Linked DNA regions of Homo sapiens: region 2 is linked to region 1. The links come from fine-mapping of genetic effects on gene expression. Tissue or cell type: fibroblasts. Region 1 holds a variant in brackets; the other region holds the start of a gene. All regions are shown on one strand. Distances are from middle to middle.

Region 1 (10,569 bases):
CACATATAGACTGAAAATAAAGGGATGGAAAAAGCCCATGCAAATCACAGGCAAAAAAACAGCAGGAGTAACTATATTTATGTCAGACAAAATCGATTTCAAGACAAAAACTATAAGAAGAGACAAAGAAGGTTACTATATAATGATAAAGGGGTCAATTCAGCAAGAGGATATAACAATTGTAAATATTTATGTACCCAACACTGGAGCACCCAGATATATAAAGAAAATATTATTAAAGCTAAAGAGATAGGCCCCCAGTGCAGTAATACCTGGAGACATCAACACCTAGCTTTCAGCATTTGACAGATCATCCAGACAGAAAATCAACATCAGACTTAATCTGCACTACAGACCAAACAGACCCAATAGATATATACAGAACATTTCATCCAACAACTGAAGAATACACATTCTTTTCCTCAGCACATGGATCATTCGCAAGGATAGACCATATGTTAGGCCACAAAACAAGTTTCAAAACATCCAAAAAATTGAAATAATATAAAGTACCTTCTCTGACCACAGTGGAATAAAAAAACTATATAGCAATAACAAGGGGAATTTGTGAAACTATGCAAATACATGGAAATTAAACAACATGCTCCTGAATGACCAGTGAGTCAATGACGACACTAAGAAAAATTGAAATTTTATTGAAACAAATGATAACAGAAACACAACAGCAAAACCTATGGGGTACATCAAAAGCAGTACTAAGAGGAAGTTTATAGCTGTACATAAATCAAAAAAGTAGAAAAATTTCAAATAAACAATCTAACAATGCATCTTAAAGAACTAGAAAATCAAGATCAAACCAAATCCAAAGCTAGTGGAAGAAAAGAAATAATAAAGATTAGAACAGATATAAATTAAAATGAGGAAAACAATACAAAAGATTAATGAAACAAAAGTTTGTTTTTTTAAAAAGATAAATGAAGTTGACAAACCTTTAGCCAGACTAAGAAAAAAAGAGAAGACCCAAATAAATAAAATCAGAAATGAGAAAAGAGACATTACATTAATACTACAGAAATTCAAAGGATCATTAGAGGCTACTATGAGTAACTATACACCAATAAATTGGAAAACCTAGAAGAAATGAATAAATTCCTAGACACAAAACCTACCAAGATTGAACCGTGAAGAAATGGGATCAAAGCCAAAATAACAAAAAAAACAAGTAATGGGATCAAAGCCAAAATAAAGTCTCCCAGAAAAGAAAAGCCAACAAAAACCTGATGGCTTCACTGTTGAATGTTACCAAACATTTAAAAAAGAATGAATACCAATCCTACTCAAACTATTCCAAAAAACAGAGAAGGAGGGAATACTTTCAAACTCATTTTACAAGGCCAGTATTACCCTGATACCAAAACCAGACAAAGACACATCAAAAAAAAAAAGAAAACTACAAGCAGTGATGCAAAAATCCTCAACAAAATACTAACAAAATGAATTCCACAATACATTAAAAAGATAATTTATCATGACCAAGTGAGATGTATCCCAGGGATGGAAGGATGGTTCAACATATGCAAATCAATCAGTGTGACACATTATATCAACAAAATGAAGAACAAAAACCATTTGATTATTTCAACTGATGCTGAAAAAGCATCTGATAAAATTCAACATCCCTTCAAGATAAAAAACTGCACATAGAAGGAACATAGTTCCACAATAAAAGCCATATATGATAGACCAACCAGCTAGTATCATACTGAAATGGAGAAAAACTGAAAGCCTTTCCTCTAGGATCTGGAACACAACAAGGATGCCCACTTTCACCACTGTTATTCACCATAGTACTCGAAGTCCTAGCTAGGGCAATCAGACAAGAGAAAGAATAAAGGCATTCAAATTGGAAAGGAAGAAGTCAAATGATCCTTGTTTGCAGAAAACATGATCTTATATTTGGAAAAACTTAAAGACTCCACCAAAAAACTATTAAAGCCAATAAACAAATTCACTAAAGTTGTAGGATATAAAATCAACATACAAAAATCAGTAGCATGTCTATAGGGCAACAGAGAACAATCTGAAAAAGAAATCAAGGAAATAATCCCATTTACAATAGCTACAAATAAAATTAAATATCTACAAACTAACCAAAGAAGTGAAAAATTTCTACAATGAAAACTATAAAACACTGATGAAAGAAATTGAAGAGGACACAAAAAACATGGAAAGATGTTCCATATTCACAGATCAGAAGAATAAATATTGTTAAAATGTCCATACTACTCAAAGTAATCTATACTTTGTAGAGATTCAATGCAATCCCTACAAAATACCAATGATGTTCTTCACAGCAATAGAAAAAAAACTACCCTAAAATTTATGTGGAACCACAAAAGATGCAGAATAGCCAAAGCTACCTTGAGCAAAAGGAACAAGGCTGGATGAATCACATTACCTGACTTTCAAATTATACTGCAGAGCTATAGTCATTAAAACAGTATGGTAATGGCATATAAACAAAAATACAGACCAATGGAATGGGATGGAGAATCCGGAAACAAATCCATACATTTATGTTGAACTCATTTTCAATAAAGGTGCCAAGAGCATACATTGGGGAAAGGATAGCCTCTTCAATAAATGGTGCTGAGAAAACTGTATATCCCTATGCAGAAGAATGAAACTAGACCCTATCTCTCACCATATACAAAAACCAAATCAAAATGGATTAAACACTTAAATCTAAGACCTCAAACTATGAAACTACTATAAGAAAACACGAGGGAAACTCTCTAGGACATTGAACTGGGCAAAGGTTTCTTGAGTAACATCCCACAGACACGAACCACTAAAGCAAAAATGGACAAATGGAATCATATCAAGTTAAAGACTTCTGCACAGCAATGAAACAACAAAATGAAGAGACAACTCACAGAATGGGATAAAATATTTTTACACTACCCATGTGACAAGAGATTAATAACCAGAATATAAAAGGGGCTCAAACAACTGTAGGGAAAAAAATCTAATAATCCTGTTAAAAATGGGCAAAAGATCTAAATAGACATTTCTCAAAAGACGACATACAAATGTCAGACAGGCATATGAAAATGTGCTCAACATCATTGATCATCAGGGAAATGCAAATCAAAACTACAATGAGTTATCACCTCACCCTGGTTAAAATGGCTTTTATCCAAAAGACAGGCAATAAAAACTGCTGATAAGAATGTGGAAAAAAAGGGAATGCCTGTACACTGTTGGTGGGAATGTAATGCAAATTACTACACTATGAAGAACAGTTTGGAGATTCCTCAAAAAACTAAAAATAGAGCTACCATACTATCCAGCATTCCAACTGCTGGATATGTACCCAAAAGAAAGGAAATCAGTATACTGAGGAGCTATCTGCACTCCTACATTTATTGCAGCACTAGTCACAATAGTCAAAATTTGGAAACAACCTAATCCTCAATAGATGAATAAAGAAAATGTGGTAAATATACACGATAGAGTACTATTTAGTCATTAAAAAAAGAGTAAGATCCTGGGCTGGGCGCAGTGGCTCACGCCCATAATCCTAGCACTTTGGGAGGCTAAGGCAGGCGGATCACGAGGTCAGGAGTTCAAGACCAGCCTGGCCAATATGGTGAAACCCCATCTCTACTAAAAATACAAAAATTAGCCAGGTTTGGTGATGGGTGCCTGTAATCCCAGCTACTCGGGAAGCTGAGGCTGGAGAACTGCTTGACCCTGGGAGGCGGAGGTTGCAGTGAGCCAAGATTATACCACTGCACTCCAGCCTGGGTGACAGAGCAAGACTCCATCTCAAAAAAAAAAAAAGGATAAGATCCTGTCATTTGCAACAACAGGGATGGAACTGGAGGTCATTATGTTAAACAAAATAAACTAGGCACAGAAAGATAAACTTCACATGTTCTTATTTATTTCTTGAACTAAAAATTAAAACAATTGACCTCATGGAGATAGAAAGTAGAGGGATGGTTACCAGAGGCTGGGAAGGGTAGTGGGAGAGTGGTAGGGGGATGCGAGGATAGTTAATGGGTCCAATAAAAATAGAAAGAATGAATAAGATCTAGTATTTTATAACATAACTTTAGGATACCTAAAGAATGAATAAAATCTAGTATGTGATAGCATAACTTTAGGACACCTAAAGCCAATAATAATTGTACATTTTTAAAATAACTAAAACTGTATAATTGGATTGCTTGTAACACAAGGGATAAATGCCTGAGGTGATGGATACCTCATTTTACATGATGTGATTATTATACATTGTATGCCTGTATCAAAACATCTCATGAGATGTATTTTCCCATTAAAAATTCCTCATTAAAAAATGTCATATATCCCATAAATGTATGTATATATATTTACGTAAATATATGTATATATATATTCAGTGTAATTCTGAAACATTTTAATTATGAAGATTTATCATGGTCATGACATTGCTTTAATATACTGGTTTCATATAATTTATTTAATTTGGAATTCCTAATAAAGAACCAAACTTCTCATTACTGTATGTGCATAGAAAAATGTAATCTGCTTTACCAAAATTCCCTTTACAATATGATGAAGAATAAAAGTGGGATATGCCTTTATGGTAACACCCTCCTCAATCCCCAAATAGCCAGGAAAGCACAACGCAGCATGGTCTCTGGAAAACAGCCGGGACCGCGGCCCAGAACTCAGGGGAGGGAGCTGACAGGTGTGCGCGCTCCAGAGTCCACTCACTTCCAGACATTCAGCCAGGAGAAAGCCTTCAGAGATCATCTAGTCCAACTATCTCACCTACAGCTGGGGAAACTGAACCCAAGGGCAGAAACGGCTTACCAAGTCGACCTAAGTTATTGACCAGGAATAAACTTACCAGACCCTAGGAAATTAGAAGCAACAAGCTAGTGGCAGAGGTGGGGTGGGCTGTGGCTTTTATACTTATGGTAGTGACAAATGGCAGCTGACCACGGAAGACAAGGCAGACAAATGAAAAGCGTATTACAGAATAATAATGAAAGCTTATTAAACACAAAAATGAAAGAGCTTATCCGAGTCACTATGAAAAAGACTCAATAAATTTGTTATTCTCCATTTAAAAAAAAAAAAGTATGTGACATATCTTAGAATAGTTTCCATCAAGAATGCTAAGATCTGCACAGAGACTGCATTCAAAGGGGTCAGCTCCAGGTATCCGGAAGGTTAATTTCTGTGGAATGCCTTCCTGCCCAGCACAGGCTTGTTTTTTCAAGGACAAAGTTTGTTTTTGATATGTGCACACATTTCATAGACAATAAAGCTAATATTCTGATTTTTGAGGCCTAAAATAACTTGTCTGCAGATGACAACTTATCTAAATGACCTGAAATAAAAGTGACTGAAAATAAGCCCTCGGGAATGTACAGTCCTTAAGCATCACGAACTGCCACTCCCAAGGCCACGCATGTATCAACAACGCCTTATCAATCCCAATGATGTTATGGGGAGTCCAGAGACAGGCAGACAACGTGGATAAGAATTTATTACTCCAGCATGACGTAACAAGAATGTTAGCTTTACTGAGCTCCATGCCAAGAGCAGAAGTCTTCCCTTCCCGCCCCTGTCCTCCCCTCCCCTATAGTTCACCCTGTCCTCCTAGCCGCCTAACAAGGGTGAGGTGATTCTGTGATAAAACTCCTCTTTGGGTTCTAGTCCTTGTATTTATTCTTTATCATGCTTCTGGTGGCACCACTCCCCAGGGCATCCCTTCCCCCATCACCACTACAAGTAATAGGACTCCCGAGTCCAAGTGATCTCATCCCTGTGTCCAGGCACCTCCAGGAGAGCAGGCCTCGCTATGCACATGTGCCTGCTCAGGATAGTTTCTATTCCATGATTCACCCACCA[A/G]GTATCCTCCCTAGGGACGCGGGTTCATGCCTCGGCCTTAACATTCTGTGCTATCATTTTAAGACTTTTACATGATTTAGAGGAAAGAACAGGAGCTTTGGAGCCAGAAAATCCTGAGTTGAATCCCAGCACCAGCATCCAAATTGAGCTCTGTGTCTGGGAATAAGTTATTTCTCCTTCCTGAGCCTTGGTGCCATTAAGTGTAAAAGGAGATGGCTGTGCAGAGTTAAGGAGAGGCTACATATAAAGTGCCTGGCACACAGTAGGTGCTCTGCGGATGCTCCTTTCCTTTCCCTCCCCCACTCCCTCTTCCTCCACTCAGAACTGTTGGCTCTGGCTTCTTTCTCTCCGGAATGTTTTCTCCCATCTCTTCTCAGTGAGCCTCCTCATATGCTTCCTTTTAGCAAGAGCTTTTACACCTGAATCATGGTGTTTAAAAACCTATATCGAGAAATGTGATTATAGGACATTGCCAAACTGTGCTTCTTGAAATAGAAATAACGAGACTGCAAAGCGCATCTAAGCTAGAGAGGGTTGGGTGAGACTGAGGGAGCAGAGAAGACGCTCTGGACACCCCCCGCCTCCCTTTTCCCCTTCCCCAGTGCCACCAGATTTAGCAAATGAAAATGTAAGACACCCAGTTAAATTTTCATTTCAGATAAATATCAAATACATTTCTAGTGTGTCCCAACAATTGCAGTTGAGAAGGAAAATGGGACTCTAGCAAAGATAAGCTGTAGAGAAAGGAAAATAAAGATCATGACTGCCAGAGACAGAGGCAGCTGTCCCTTCTACCTGGTGCTACCAGAGAGAACTTCAAATCATCTGACCAAAAGGGAACCCCTGGTGGAGTCACAGCTTTGTGTGGTCTTGGAGTCCTAGAAAGTGCCCGTAGGCAGTAAACGCACAGCCATGGTCCTTCAGTTCCAGTAAGCATGGGCAGTTACTGAAGAGGGGCTTGGGACTTGAAGACGGCAGCTGCCCAGGCACCCTCAATGTCTGTACAAAATCCACCCACCTAATGCTATGTGAGTTTTATCGTATTTTTTATTAATTTTTAAACATAATTTTGTGGAATGAGCACTTATTTAATATTCCATATAATCTTTAAAATGTTGCAAAAGATGAAATAAGCCAGCCATACTTAAATACAAGTGAATTTTCTCTTAATTTATTTGGATTTGAATTTTTGCTTTAAAAGACTAAAGGGCAACAAAATTACACAGGAAAATGCACATGTTACTGTACAAACTGAAATATCATCCCCGCTGAATTACTGCAATAACTTCTCAACTGAACTCCCTGCTGCTGCCCATCCAGTCTCTTAACTCAGCAGCCAGAATGATCCTTCTAAAAAATACATCAGATTACGCCCCTTCCCTGCCCAAAACCCTCCACTGGCTCTCAGTAAGTGTGAGCCTTTCCAGTGGCCTTCAAGGTCCTGTGGGACTTGGCGCCCCACCCCTTTCAGCCCCTCCGACTCTCCTTTCCTGCCCTCCCCTTGCTCACTGGGCACAGGCCACTCTGGCCACTGCCCACAGCGTCCTGCCCAGATGCCCCTGTGCCTTCCCTGCCCTCCTGCAGAGCTTTGCCCTAATGCCAGCTTCTCCATAACACCTTCTCTGGCCACACTTTCTAAGTTCGTAGCCCCCATTCCTAGCACATCCTAGCCCCTCTCACTGCTGCCGATTCCCATCAACCTACTGCACATTTTACTTTAGTTGTACGTTTGGTATCTCTCCTCACTAGAATGCAAGGCAGACATTTGGGCATTTTGCTCTCTGCAGCCTCCCCAGAATGTAGAACAGTACATGGCACATAGGACGCACTCAATACAATTATTTTTTGAATGTTGAATAAATATGAGGTAAGAATAATGATGAGCTATAGTGTGGTAAGATGTATTTACCGAAAGCCAAACAATGAATAAATGTGGGGTTTTCTTCAAGACTTCAAAGACTGAAAAGAGCTCTTATTTTTGAACTTTTTTACGCGCCTCTCACTTGCTTTCTTCTTTTTTTCATCAGAAAATTATAGAGCCAGAGGGGGGTCATGACTTCCTGGCTTCTAAAGTTAATATTCAAAAATGCAGGACAGAGCATTTTTACCGTTCGCATTTTATAAATCATGTGATTGAAGGAAGTACATATTTGCCTGAAGTAACATCCTTTGAAAGTGCTTCCCAAGTCTCCCCCCACTCAGGCTAAGAACAGTCAAGCAATTCCAGACTAAAGAATGTGCTCCTCATGAAATTTCAACACAAGCGCATTCAATACATGTTTATTGATCGGCAGAGATCAAATCTGTCGCCCTTTTAACAAAGGTCCAACTGAATGACCTTTAAATGTGAGATGTGTCAAAATCCAAAATGCCAAACAAGTCTCCTTACCTCTCGGCAGAGTCTCTGATGAGCTGCTGCAAATCCACCTCCTGCTTCCTCAGGGTTCCAAATGAAGACTGGCTCTCTACGCGGCTGCTGCCCCCCAGGTTCAGCTTGACCTTCCCCAGTGCAGTCTCCAGGGTTCCACTCACGTGGTTTGCAAACTTGCCCTCGTATTTCACAAAGTCCGACTCCACGACCACTGGAATGGAGGAGACGAGCAGAGGAAGCCGATGATGATAAGGCCACCAAGATGTCTTGGGTCATTTAGCTTTCCAAGCCTGTGCAGAGCCCCGGAAAGCAGAAGGCTGGCACTCAGATGGAAAGCCGGCAGCCATGCTGTGTGTGTGGGCAAGAAAACAGGGCAGCACGTGTGTGTGTGTGTGTGTGTGTGTGTGTGGACCGCGGGCACACAGTGGACCAGTGCAGCACGTGTGTGTGTGTGTGTGTGTGTGTGTGTGTGTGTGTGTGTGTGTGTGTGTGGACCACGGGCACACAGTGGACCAGTGACCAGGGCTCCACTAGAAGCTTTTCTCTTTCATTGGTTTTCAATCCCAATACGTATAGAAAGGTGCACAGAAAGGACTAATGAATAAAGTTAGCGCCTGTTTAACCACTATCCAGGTGGATCAATAGACCATTTTAAATGTGTACTTTTCCAGGGTGAAGACTGAAAGGGACTAGACAAAGAAGACAACTAAACAGAGAGAGAACAGCAGCCCCTATTCTGGATGCACCGCGAGAGGACAGCCTTCCTTGGCCACCTAGGCCTGTCTGGGGGCATCTTGTCTACCCACCCACCAGTCTTGGAAAACAATCCCCTGGCCCTTATTACCATCTCCAGTCAAATTATTCCCTTCCCATATTTATGATTCTCTCTCTGACCTCTACCCAGTCATTCAATTCCTCATCATATAATTCCTTATCTCTGACTTCCTGATAAGGTCAGTGGACATGCCCTTTTTAAAATGATAAATGTCTGATCTCATATCTGAACTGTCAGCCTTCTCACATCTCCAGGTTTCTACTATTCTCTTTTGTAATCCAAACAAAAACCACCCTAAAAATAGTCTCTGTGTGGTGGCTCACATTTGTAATCCCAGCAATTTAGGAGGCTGAGGCAGGAGGATCCCTTGAGGTCAGAAGTTCAAGACCAACCTGGGCAACACCAGCTACCCTAGAGGCTGAGGTGAGAGGATCACCTGAACCCAGGAGTATAAGGTTACAAGTGAGCAATGATCATGCCACTGCACGCCAGCCTGGGTGACAGAGCAACACCTTATCTCTAAGAAAATATAAAAATAATAACAAATAAAAATAATGATTTTAAAAATAGTCTCTATCATCACCATTTGGTAAGGAGACATTAAGAGTCCACTAGGAACCTCACACTTGGCCTTTTCCATTGTCCTGACCCAAGGCTCTCCTGGGCTCCCGGCTGCCCTTCACAGGGGATTCAAACCCACCGGCAGTCTGAAAGGCTTCTTTCCATCCACTCACTGCCCCAACACCCATACTTCACCTACACTTCTTCCACTGCAATCAAGAAAACCCACTCCTCAACCAGGGTTAATCAGAAGTAATCACCATTCAATCACCTTTGAAATTTATAAAACAGAGAATCATCTCCTGTACCACCAGCCCAAAAATAAGAATGGTGTAAAAATTTATCCTATTCATGGACTTTTTTTGTTAATATCTCATGGAAAACAAACATTTTGGGCAATGCCTTGGGAAGAAGGGCAGAGCAGAGATAAAGAGGTTAGGATTCTATCCCTACTCTAATATTACTAACCGGGAGAATTTGGGTAACATTCATTTCCCTGAACCTCAGACTTTCATGAGCAATTTGGAGATAATTAATGATAGCTACCTGACGGGTTCTGCTGCGGGTTTATATATGGAAAGCATGTAAGGTAGAGTCTCACACATAGCAAAGGCTCAATCTCTCCACTGTGTTTAGGCCACAGAAATATCATTTTCTAATAAACAGGACAGTCCTAGGTTCTACAAAGTACAGCAAAGACAGAAATTTTATCTTCAGGACACAGGTCTGGTCTTAGGCTTATTACCACTCCTGGAAACCCTGTCCCCAAGACTTGATCCACAGCAGGAAGGAACAGTCAAGATTTGTCTGTGTGTTCTGAAAAGCCACTCTAGACACACCTCCGAAGAAGATGTCATTTGTGCACACTTCTGCATCAAGCTGTCAACTGCTGTTGGTGGAAGGGAAGAAATGAGGGGACCAACAGGCCATCACTTGGACTGCCAACACCAGTCACCACCCTACACCCTTCACAGCCCTGGGCAACACA
Region 2 (11,184 bases), 170 kb before region 1:
ACACATACACCCCGACTTCCATCATTGCTTCCACGTCCCTTATCCTATCCATCTTTCATTCATTTATTTACCAAAAATGTCTTAAGAGCCTACTATGCATCTTAATGACTTGCTCTTACCCTCACGACTTCTCCTCAGTCCTTTGGAGGAGCATCGGCCTCACAGTTTGACCCTTTGTTTTTATGTTTAATCACCATTGACACCCTTTTTGCCTGTCATGCCAGAAGATTCTTCCAGAAGACCTCCACTGCCCTCCAGGACTTCGTGCCTGTCTGTGTTTTCAATGGGGAAAGGTACACACTATACTGACACTATATATTTTTACAAATTTTTAAGAAAGGTTTTTCCTGTTTTCCTATGTCTTTTTAATCTTCTTTTTGATACTTGAGTAGAAGGATTTTTTTTTCAGTTCATATATATAATGGGAGAGGTAGAATTTAGAGGCCGATTTTAAATGAGTATCTAAAAGGGTTAATTACATATAGATGCTGGCTCCTGGTGAGATAAAGTCAAGCTCAATTAAGGTCACTGCTTGAAATCTGATTGTCTTTCTAAGAGCTTTTCATCTGTAACTTGCATATTCTGGAACAAGTGTTCAATTGTAATTAGCAACATTTTTCACTTAATTTTATTTAATTTTAGAAGTCTACCAACTAACAGGTTTATCTGTTTCAATAAATGAGCAGCTACTATGTGCAGTACTATGCCAAGTGCTACAGGCATTCCTGTACACATCACCCTGGATTTTACCTGCAAGAAAGAAGGGGATGGGGCTGAGTGGCGGTAAAAAGAATGCAAAGATAAATATTTGAAAACATAAATGATGCTTTTATGAAGCAGAATAGGAAAGGAGCCATAAGATGCAATTAAAGTGCTACAGGAGTTCAAAGGAGAGCAATTACACTAGTCCCTTCTTATCCAAGAGGGCATCCATTCCAAGCCCCCCAGTGAATACCTGAAACCATGGATAGTACTGCACTGTACATATTTTATATATATATATATATATATATATATATGTACTATGGTTTGTAGACATACATACCTATGATAAAGTTTTTAATTTATACATTAGGCACGTTAAGAGATTAACAATAACTAATAATAAAATAGAACAATTATAACAATATACCTTCATAAAAGTTACGTGAACATAGTGTCTCTCTTTCTCAAAATATCTTATCATACTGTACTGAGGAAAACTGAAACCTTGGAAAGTGAAACCATGAATAAGGGGGGACTGGGGGACTACTGTACCTCTGTTTGAGGTGAGGCAGAAAGGGTTTCATGGAAAAGGAGGGTGTGAGATGAGCACACATGCTTGGATTTTGGCCAGCAGAGATGGCAGAAGGCAAAAACAGGGGTAGAAACATAAAGATACAAGATATGACTAACTAGAATATCCAAACAGGGAAGCTTTGACTGTCATTGTGAATGACCTTGTAAATGGGGTCCCGTAGGCAGTAAGGAGACAGGGATAAAATGACTGGCACCTGGCAGTCAGGGCAAGGAGGCCCTGAGGCAGGGAGATGAGTTAGGAGACTCTGTAGGACTAAAGCAAATAAACAAGAGAATCCATTCCTATAATTTTGAGAAAGTGGGCTGCAAGGGATTTGAGTATGTGTTTGTTCAGGAGATGGTAAAAGGAGGTAAAGGAAAGGAAGGTGCCAGAAAAACCAGCAGGAGCAACCCCGTGAATAGCTTATCTAGATGGAAATTTTCAACAGCGAGTTGAAAATATGCCTCAAGGGAGAATAGATACAGATGTGGAAGCATTGGTGCTAGAGTCCTAAGGATCCCTGGGATTCTCAAGATAAACAGTACTATCTGCTCTTTTTAAGTTTCTCCTCAAAAATTTATTTCATTCTTAGTGGAACATTTTTCTTTAGGAAGTAGGAGGAGATAACACAGCAAAGTAAGGGTCAGAGATGGAACAGTCAGAGAGGTCGAAAGAGCTCCCAGGTGGTATGGTATCAGAGAAGTTAAAGGAAAAGAGAGGTTTAGAGAGTGAGAGTACGAGAGATTAACCTCCTCAAACACTGCAGAGAAGTTCAATGGCATGAACACTAAGCAAAGACCTTCCCCACTAATTCTGTCATATACTATTAAGACACCTGGCATAGCACTTATTATGTAATATTTTGCTTATTATTCTTCGCCATTAGGTAGGGACTACTTGATATTGTTAATTTTTTTATTTTCATTATGCTTCACTAGTAAATGAGTGACTGAATGGATGAACACATGAATGAAAATGTTAATTGTGATGGAAATAGTAGTTTCAGCAGAGAAGTGGGTGTGGAAGCCCAATTCCAATGCCTAAAATAAACAAATAATGGTAAGAAAAGTCAAGGAGATATGCTGAGATATATAGTTTTCTTTTTTAAGGAAAAACCAAACAACCCCAAAACTCAAGTTCTTATAATGTTTGGCTTTAATTGTGATGATTAAAAAAAAAAAAAGAACTGCCATCGTATCAGGAAATGTTTTTTCAGACAGCTAGTTTAGAGGAGAAAGTTCTGCTAAGACATTTCTGTTTGAGACAGTTGACCCAGTGGGACTTTTGGAAAGATTTAGATTATAAGAAAAGCCTCTGACAAATATCTATGAAAGCAAGATTAAAACAATAATGTACACAATCAACTGAGGTCCAGCGGTTTGTAAACCAGTGCCAGTCGGGATGCTCAGAGCTGGGAACGGTGATCTTCAGGCAGCCAGGTGAGACTAATCTGGAGAAGCTTTAGGAAGGAGATAAATTTAAGCTGTTTTGAAAGGGGACTATTCTAGTCAATTGGCAAAGAGTCTTAAAGCACAGGATTAGGAATTTTAATTTGATTACTCGAGGTAATTTGGAGCTACCCCACTGTTGTGAAGATTTGGTATAAATGTTGTTTGGAAGATGATTCATTTCCATAGTTCTTAACTCTGGCTGCGTATTAGAGTTATCTGGAGAGCTCTGAAAAAATCCTGGCACCCAGGCTGTGCTCCAGAGCAATTAAGTCTGGGATGGCATCAAAGCATCAGTGCTTTGTTTTGTTTCTTAAAGTTCTCTGGGTGATTTCAATAAAGAGCCAAAAATTAAGAAGCACTGCTCTGAGTATAGGATAAATTGCAAGGAAGCAAGAGAGAGGCTAGAATTAGAAAGGTTAGCAAGGAGGCTGGAAATTGGAATCTGACCTAGCTTTGTGAGCAGAGATAAAAGGAGTGAAGCTAAATAAAGTATTCTGAAGGAAAACTTGGTTGGACTTTGTGATGCATGCCAGTTGCATTTTTAAATAAAGCTATCCTCCAGGAGTGTCACTGCTTTTACTATGATGGATTAGTTGAAAAACAAGTACACAGGATTTGCTTTTGCTAAAATTCGGGGCTATTAGCAAAATTCTCAATTTCTGTAGGAGCAAAGCAGGTCAGAAGAGAAAAGAAAATGTAATCACATTAAAAGTGTATGTTGTTTACATTTGAAGGAGGAAACAAAATTGAGTGATGGATGCTCCTGAATTAAGAATCAAAATTCAAATTTTAAATTGAATTACCGTTGGGAGATACTGGGCTGTGGTAAAATTATGATCCCTTTAGAGTAACCTTGAAGGAAATGAAAAGTCAGACTATTAAGGACACTGAAGAGAAAGATCCACCATCATTCTCAATCATATCATTCCCCTTTCTTGGAATGAAGAATTTGTAACCGGTATGGGAAATGGATGGTGGTGTCTCAGTATGATGACCTCTCAGAAAGCTGAGTTGGGAACCAATGATGGGAGTTCCAATGTTTAACTGAGAACACTTTAAATTTATCCTGGCATGTCCCACCTTTAAAGTTTAGAGGAAGGGCAGAATGTTATAAAATGGGAATATCATTTATAAAAGGAAATAGTGTTTCCTTTTATAACTGTATATGAGTATTTGATACAATACTCATCTGACACTGAGAGAGGAACTTCACCGGCAAGAGCTTTCTGAAGGGGAGCAATCAAAGACAGTTATTGGAGCAAAATCATTTTTCTGACTCTAAGAATGAAGCTGAGTCTTACGGCAGTGATAAGCCTCCATCTGATAGCTGCTGTCATTACTTAGAGCACAGACTTGGAACTGCAAATGAAAGATAATTGTTCCTGTATTCCTGCTCCCAAATGCTGGGTCTCTGGTAGATGCAGAGATAAAGCAGTTGGCCAGGAGTGGTGCCAGCTTTAAGTCAGGTAGGTCTGCATGTAATTTGAGGGGCAGAGCCTACCCCAAACCCTCCCTCCCTAAAACTTCCTCAGTTAACATCATTCTACTTGCAGGGAGCAGGGGTAGAGTAGGTTAGGACATTGTTTCCAGAAGACCCTTGAGGAAATAAAAGTGCACTATTAAGGATCACTAACATATCTGGAAATGACATTCATACCCTACCTCCCACCCCAACCCCAGAGAAGCTCAGGGCAAGTAACTAAGTGGCTGGGTCCAAGGGGATGTGTTAAGGTTAAGAGTCAGAAGGGAAAAGAGTTCACAAGCCTGGGTAGGGTACAGCAGGGAGGACCCATGGGTGTCCTGTGAGAAGCAAGTGGGCCTGGGGCAGCAAGAAGGACCTGAAAGGTCTTGCTGACACCCCGAGAAGACAAACCCCATCCTTCCGCTTTGTCTCTGCCTTGGGCTCCGAGCCCACTCCACTTCATTTCATCCAGCCATCCTGACTACAGGGGGCCCAAAGCTACTCTGTGCCCTGGGCACGTTTGAGTCTCCTTAAATGCTTCCAATTACCTTTGCCTGGGTTTGTGGTTCCAGGAAAGAAGGTTCTAAATTAACACTGTACAAGGCCCCCCTGCATGTTGGTTTGCAAAATTAATGATCCTAATGGAAAAGTAAATTAATCTTTGATGCTTGGTTGAGGATAAACACAAAAATCACTGTTTTGGACACTGGACCTTCTTAATACATCTCATCAATAGTATTTTCTCTCTCCCTTCCATGCCTGCCACATTCACAAAGAGAGGAGACAATACAACTTATAACTTCATCTCTGAATCCAAAGGGCCATGATGCACGCATTTATTCTGCAAACACTTATTAATGGTCTGGTTTGTGCAAGGTGCCCAAGAGAAGCCAGGAAAGGCTGCACAGAGGAGGCCACCTCATAACACTCCTCACACGTAAAGTTTGACTTGCACTTTCTACGTTCATGGTTTGAAAAGATTGCAGTAAGCATTTTGTAAAATGTAAATTACATTCTTCAATTTTAGGAAGAACACAATAGTTTTTCCAAAAGCCGCCTGTCACAGGTCTGAGGGTTCACAGAGCTCTTTTAAGGGGATCGGAAGTTCTCTGGCTGCCTTGCTATGTTTTTCTAGCCAGAAGTCTCTGCTGCAGTGCATTGCTCAGTTCCTTTCAACTGAAAAATTAAATCTGCACTTCTGTCAAAATGTGTCATCTACACATCCGGACACTCATCACAGTTCACCAAGCTCTACGCAGAGTCCAGGCTGAAAGGATGGCATGCCCTCCCCAACCCCACCCTTTTGAGGTCTGGGAAGCCCAGGTGCTGGGGAGGAGCTGAACAACTGTGTCCAGGGAGTGTCTGGCAAAGCCGACCCAGGGAGTTCCACGGGAGCCTCGGTGCTATGAAAAGAGCCAGTGTCCATGCATTTCCTCGGGTGTGAATCACACTGCCCGGTCGGGCCTTTGGGAAAAAATTAATGAAGGACACAGTCAGCGCCGTAGAACCTGCCAAATACACATCAGATCCAGTGGAGTCTGTGAAGGGGGAGGGGGAGATTTTTCCAGAGGCTTTTCTTCTCGTTCCATTTCTCTTTTGTGCCCCACGACTGGGTTCTTGAATGTAAAACTCTCAGAAAGGTCAGGGCGGAGCCTGTTTTATGCCCCGAGGAGTATCTTGCCCACCCGTAAATGCTGACAGACAGCTGCGACTTCGGCCCAGGAGACCCGGCGGGGACTGGGTCCGACCAGCCCTCTCTCGCGGGCGCAGGTCCGGGACCCCTGAAGCGAGCCGGCCGGGCGCAGAGCGCAGTCAGTCTGGGCGCTCAGAAGCTGGGAGGGGGCTCCACCTGGGCGCCCAGCCGCGGCGGGAGGGGCGGGGCCCGGCTTTCCGGAGGCGGTGGCACCTCCTCGCGCCCGAGCGCGCGCTCCCCGACGTCCGGCGCACGCGCGAGGCCGGCTGGGAGCGCGCCCAAGCGGCGGCGGCGGCGGCGGCTGGAGGAGGAGGAGGAGGAGGAGGAGGAGGAGGAGGGCGGCTGAGGCGCGGCTGGCTGCGCGCGCGGAGGCAGCGGCGGGGGCGACCGGAGCTGGGGCAGAGTGGGGAGCGAGGGAGGGGGAGGAGAGAGAGGGAGGCGGAGGGCAGTGAGAGACGCATTTCCAGTTCTCAACTACGAGCCACGAGTTTGCAGATGGGGCTGCTCGGCGGCGCCTGTGGCTGAGGGAGAGCAGCGGCGGCGGGGAGCGACCGGGAGCGGCGGCAGCGGCGGCGCGGAGGCGGCTGAGGTGCGAGCCGGTGAGTTAACTGGACCCCCACGCCGCTCGGGTAACGGTCGCGCCGCGCGCCGGGCCGGCCGGGGGCGCCCTGTTGCTCGGCGCGGCGCGCCACGCGGGGACCCTGGCCCGCCCCGCCCCCCTCGGCACCTGGGCTTCGGCGGGCGCGGGGAAGAGGGACCGGCAGGCGGCGGCGGCGGCGCCGCGGTCGGGGAGGCTGCTGGCCGCCCCCAGCCCGGCCCGCGCGGAAGGGGCGCTCGGCCGGGCTCCTGCCTCTCTGGCTGCGGGCGGCTGGGCGGGCCGGAGCTCGGCAACGTGTCTGGCCCATGCTGCTTGCCGCCGCTCCCCACGCGCTCCCCGGCGCGGCCCCGACTGGGGCTAGGGCCGCAGACGCGCGGGGCCCCTTCGGGCGCGGGGCTTGGGTGCCTACACCTCTGCGGCGGGAGTCGCGGTGGAGCCTGAATGGAGAGCCGGCCTGGGGGCGGCGTTGCTGTGACTGACACCTCCGGGGTCTGTCCCGAGAGGGGGTGATTCCGCCGGCTCCCGGTTCTCTCCCGAGCTCGGAGTTGGTAGGGGAGGAGGCTTTCTCCAACTACCGCCGCTACTTCCGAGGTACGAGACTCCAGTTGTTTGGCCAAAGTGGCTGTGGGCCGAGCACAGGCTGCCGCGGGGGCGTTCGCTGCTGAGATCGTGCTCGCGGATTCTCGGTACGTTTGTCTGAAACCAAATAGGTGCTGGGGCTTTTTTATTTTGGCTGGGTGGAGGGTCAGCAGGGGAGTCGATTGAGGTATCCGACCGTGTGGTGACAGGATGTGGATTGGTTGGTAGATGTTTTTTTGCAGAAGGACTTTTTAACACTTTACTGGGAGTTTATTCTCAATCCTACCAGTTTCTGGGATTGCAGCTCGAGATTACATTTGTTAAACTTCCATCAGTTGGGTGTGCATCTGTGTAGGGGGTGGGGGTGAAGCGAGGGAGAGAATTGAAGACTGCCGGGGAAGCTCAGAAAATTCTCCGCATTACTTATAAACAGCCGGGTAAGGTCAGGCTAGCCACGTTTTATTCTTTCCTACGCCTTTGGAGAGTGTTGGAATTTTACTTTGTGCTTCAAGTATATTACAAGTGGTCTTGTAGTGTAGCTGAGAACGTTTGGGGTGCGTTAAAATGCGTTTCAATTGGAGTATGATTTAGCAGCCATTTCTTCCCGTGAAATTTTGCAAATCATTTGTAAACTTATGTTGGTCGAATATACCAGGCGAAGTAACATTTTTAGTAATGCGGTATATAGTTTCCGTATATAGGTATAGCAACGGACCTCAAGTAATATTGCTTATTGTAGGCATCTACTGTGCAATGATAGGGTAGTGGGTAGTAGGCCTGATTATAGTTATGTCTTCTGAGGCCTTGTTAACAGTAAACAAAGAACTTTTGTGGGTTGTGTCATTTTGAGGTCATTTGTACCTTAAATCTATCATATATTTAAATAGGTGTTTAAATGCGTGTTTGCACGATGTGTTACTCTTTAAGGTCCATGTTTCCTTCATTCTGGACTACGGTTACATAATACACAAATGGTAACACTTTTAATTGCTCAATTTTGTCCTATGGAGACTGCACACCATCTTTATGAAAGAGGTGTGTATGTGTCCTTACTGATGCCACCGAATTCTTGACATCTGGAATGTCAAAATGAATTATTTTGCATTCTAGGTTAAATCAACACTGGAAAAATTAAGGTGTTTAAGCAAGTCTAGTAGCTCTATATAAGACAGAATCTTTTTTTTTCTTTAGGCCAACTGTTGGATTTTTAAAAATGAATCATATTTTTAAACATTTGAGGGAGCAGTTTGCTTCTGAGTCTCATTTTAGGCTGAAATTGTTCCAGAGCACTACATAGCCTGCTTCTCTCTTTCTCTCCCCACTCCCCCTCTTTTTAGCTTGAGATAACCAAGAAGACATAACTGTGACTCTATGTGTTATCTTTTTAAAAAGTTGTTTTAAAATTGAAGTTGCTTGTTTGAATATTTACTATCCCTTTACATGCTTTACTACTTAATAATGGATTAGCAGAATAAAACAGATATTTTAATTAAATGTCTTTCATATTTTTGACATCTGAGCTTTGTAAAAATGGAGTAGCATCATATTATTGCTGAGAGAGTTACAAATAATACAGGATTAGTGCTAGTCAAAGGCTAATTGTAAAAAAACAGCCAGAAAATAAAATTAAAAGAGGTAAGAGGACGCATTTATACTTTTGACATCACTCTAATATAAATTACCTATTGCTAGGTGACTTTTGAAAAAGAGTATCTTGTAAAATTCACATTAGGTATATAATAGTTAATAATTTTTCCTTCCAGAGTGATTCACTTGATGAGTGACTAGATTTTTTTTTTTTAAATCAGAACTCTACTTCAGGTAAGTATAGTTAACCATGTAAGTGATGTGCTGATGTTTATTTCAGGAAGAATGAACACTTACCCATTTGATAAATACTGAACTGTTTGGGAATATGTCAGTTATTCCTTAAAACTTAGGCGGAGAAAAATTATGCTAGTTTTGTTTTAACTGTAGGTTCTTTAGAAAAGTAGTCTTCACATTTATAAATATAAGAGCAGATAAGCACAAGAGATCTCTTTCCTGATATGGTGCTAGTATTGAATTAAAGATTTTATTTTTTTGTTGTAGGGACCAGTTTTGTTTAGTCTTCCTGTTCAGTCTCACAGAAGCTGCAATGATTTTCCTCCTTTTCTGTTACTTGTATCTGACCACTGGGGGGAGACTTTACAATTGGGCTTGACCATATTCCTTCTTTACATACATTGGCTGCTAATCCTGGGCACTTTGTCAAACTGCTGGGTAGTGTGCTGAGGAGGATGCACTCTGAAGCAAGTCTCAATCAAGGTGTTTAATGACTTTTCTTTCTTTAACTCACAGCATGCTTACAAAGTATCATTCTTTATAGACTGTGTTATTAACAGTCTACTGTTAAGTGGTCTAAGTATGCCTCTAACATAATGAAAGATAAGATTCCTGAATACATTATAGCTTTCAAAGATCCGACTTTACTTGCATTAATCTTAGAAGCAGTGTAGGTTTAATTGCTTGCTTAGAGTACACAGATATTAGTTGTCTGGAAGGATCTGGAAAGATCATCACTCTTCTGTGAAGTGTATCTATATCCAAACCCTTTAAACAAATTGGTCTCCTCTTATAAAAAGCTTTTGGAGGAGAAGATATTGAAGCATCCCATGTAGCTAATTTTAGTGTTCATTTCACCGCAGAGGGGAAGTTCTTCCTTTATCATAGTCATATAGATAAGATTAAAGCCCACAACTTTGTTAACCATTAAGCTGTGACCATTATTACCAGGTGTAATAAAGTCAAAAGCCTGGTTTCTACTTTTTCTTTTCTGACAGTATTTAACCTTGTTAATGTCCAATTCAATAATAATGAACTCAGTAAACAGAGGCTGCTACGTTTATAGTAGTTTAGAAAGAACTTAAGTTTTATGACCTTCCTTAATTATGATAGACTAATTCAAAGACCTTTCTATAATCTTTATCATAGTAAGTATATTCACAGAGTAATGAACAGAACAAAATTAGTTTCTATTTTTCCTTCATCCTAGGTTATTTTCCTTCTTTCCTTTAAGATGACTTTGCTTTCATCCGAAAATTCTTTTTTCCTTTTTTCCTTTTTTTTTTTTTTTAATATAGTGTACTAGAAGAGATACTTTCTGCTTAGGAATATATTCATCTCTGGCTAACTTTAGGATTGTGTTAAGTACTTGGGAATGGAAGTTTCTAAAAGCCTATCTGTCAGAGTTATCACTGATACAAGGCAAAATGAGAATTAAAGACAATATAATGAATATTTCATAAAGCTCAAGTTATTTTCAGATCCTTTCTACTGCTTGCTAGTTTTGTACATGATTTAATCCCTCCTTCACCAATTTACATCTTTTCCTCTTAAATCTATCATTTCTTTACCCTCTTCCTCCACTTTTTGCTATATTTCATCTACATTGCCCTTCATTTTGTTCCTCATCAATGCCATGGCTTGCTCCTAACTTAGGGCTTTTGCACTATGTTCACTCTGTTGGGAACTCTTCCTAAATCATTACATGAGTGACTACTTTTCATCATTTCATGTTGTAGTTCAAATATCATCTTTTCAGACAAGCATTGCTACCTAACCATCCTTCCAGAATGACACTAGCCTCATCCCCCTCAATCCCATTACCTTTTTTACTTAAAAATTTCTTCAAACCATTTATCAGTATCTGAAATTATGTTTTTATATTATTTTATAATCTCCATACTCACTAGAATATAAGCCCCGTGATATCAATGATCTTGTCTCTTTTTGTTTTTGTTTTTGAGATAGAATCTCACTCGGTCACCCCAGGCTGGAGTGCAGTGGTGTGTGTGATCACGGCTCACTGCAGCCTGGAACTCCTAGGCTCAAGTGATCCTCCCACCTCAGCCTCCTGGTAGCTAGGACTATAGGCAACAACTACCATGCCGAGCTAATTAAAAAAAAAAAATTCTGTAGAAATGGAGTCTTGCTGTGTGTGTTGCCCAGGCTGCTCTCAAACTCCTGATCTCAAGGGATTCTCTCGCCTCAGTGCCTCAAAGCACTGGGATCATAAGCATGAACCACCACACCCTGCTGATCTTGTCTCTTTTGATTAACACTATATTTCAAGGACTTAGA

Which allele goes with the higher level. Positions count from the first base shown, and alleles are read on the strand shown. Sizes are in standard deviations (SD) of each study's normalised expression.
As copies of G replace A in region 1, the expression in fibroblasts of the gene that starts at base 6,343 in region 2 goes down (small effect, 0.22 SD a copy in GTEx).

Evidence for each region. PIP is the estimated chance that this variant, and not a neighbour inherited with it, causes the effect.
Region 2: it holds the start of PALS2, and the variant in region 1 is fine-mapped to the expression of PALS2 in fibroblasts (GTEx, PIP above 0.99).

Annotation. Positions count from the first base shown.
Region 1 is chr7:24,736,299-24,746,867 of GRCh38, forward strand. It overlaps GSDME (gasdermin E), which reads right to left. Exons shown (of 10, transcript NM_001127453.2): 3 at 8,264-8,456. Among named protein-coding and RNA genes, the nearest start is that of GSDME, 16 kb to the right of the region's middle. RefSeq lists a silencer at 5,292-5,586. The variant A/G (reference allele first, on the strand shown) is at 5,875.
Region 2 is chr7:24,567,110-24,578,293 of GRCh38, forward strand. PALS2 (protein associated with LIN7 2, MAGUK p55 family member) reads left to right here and starts at 6,343. Exons shown (of 12, transcript NM_001303037.2): 1 at 6,343-6,484. RefSeq lists enhancers at 5,492-5,561, 5,582-5,681, 6,547-7,046, 6,992-7,041, 7,092-7,211 and 1 more and a silencer at 5,822-6,891.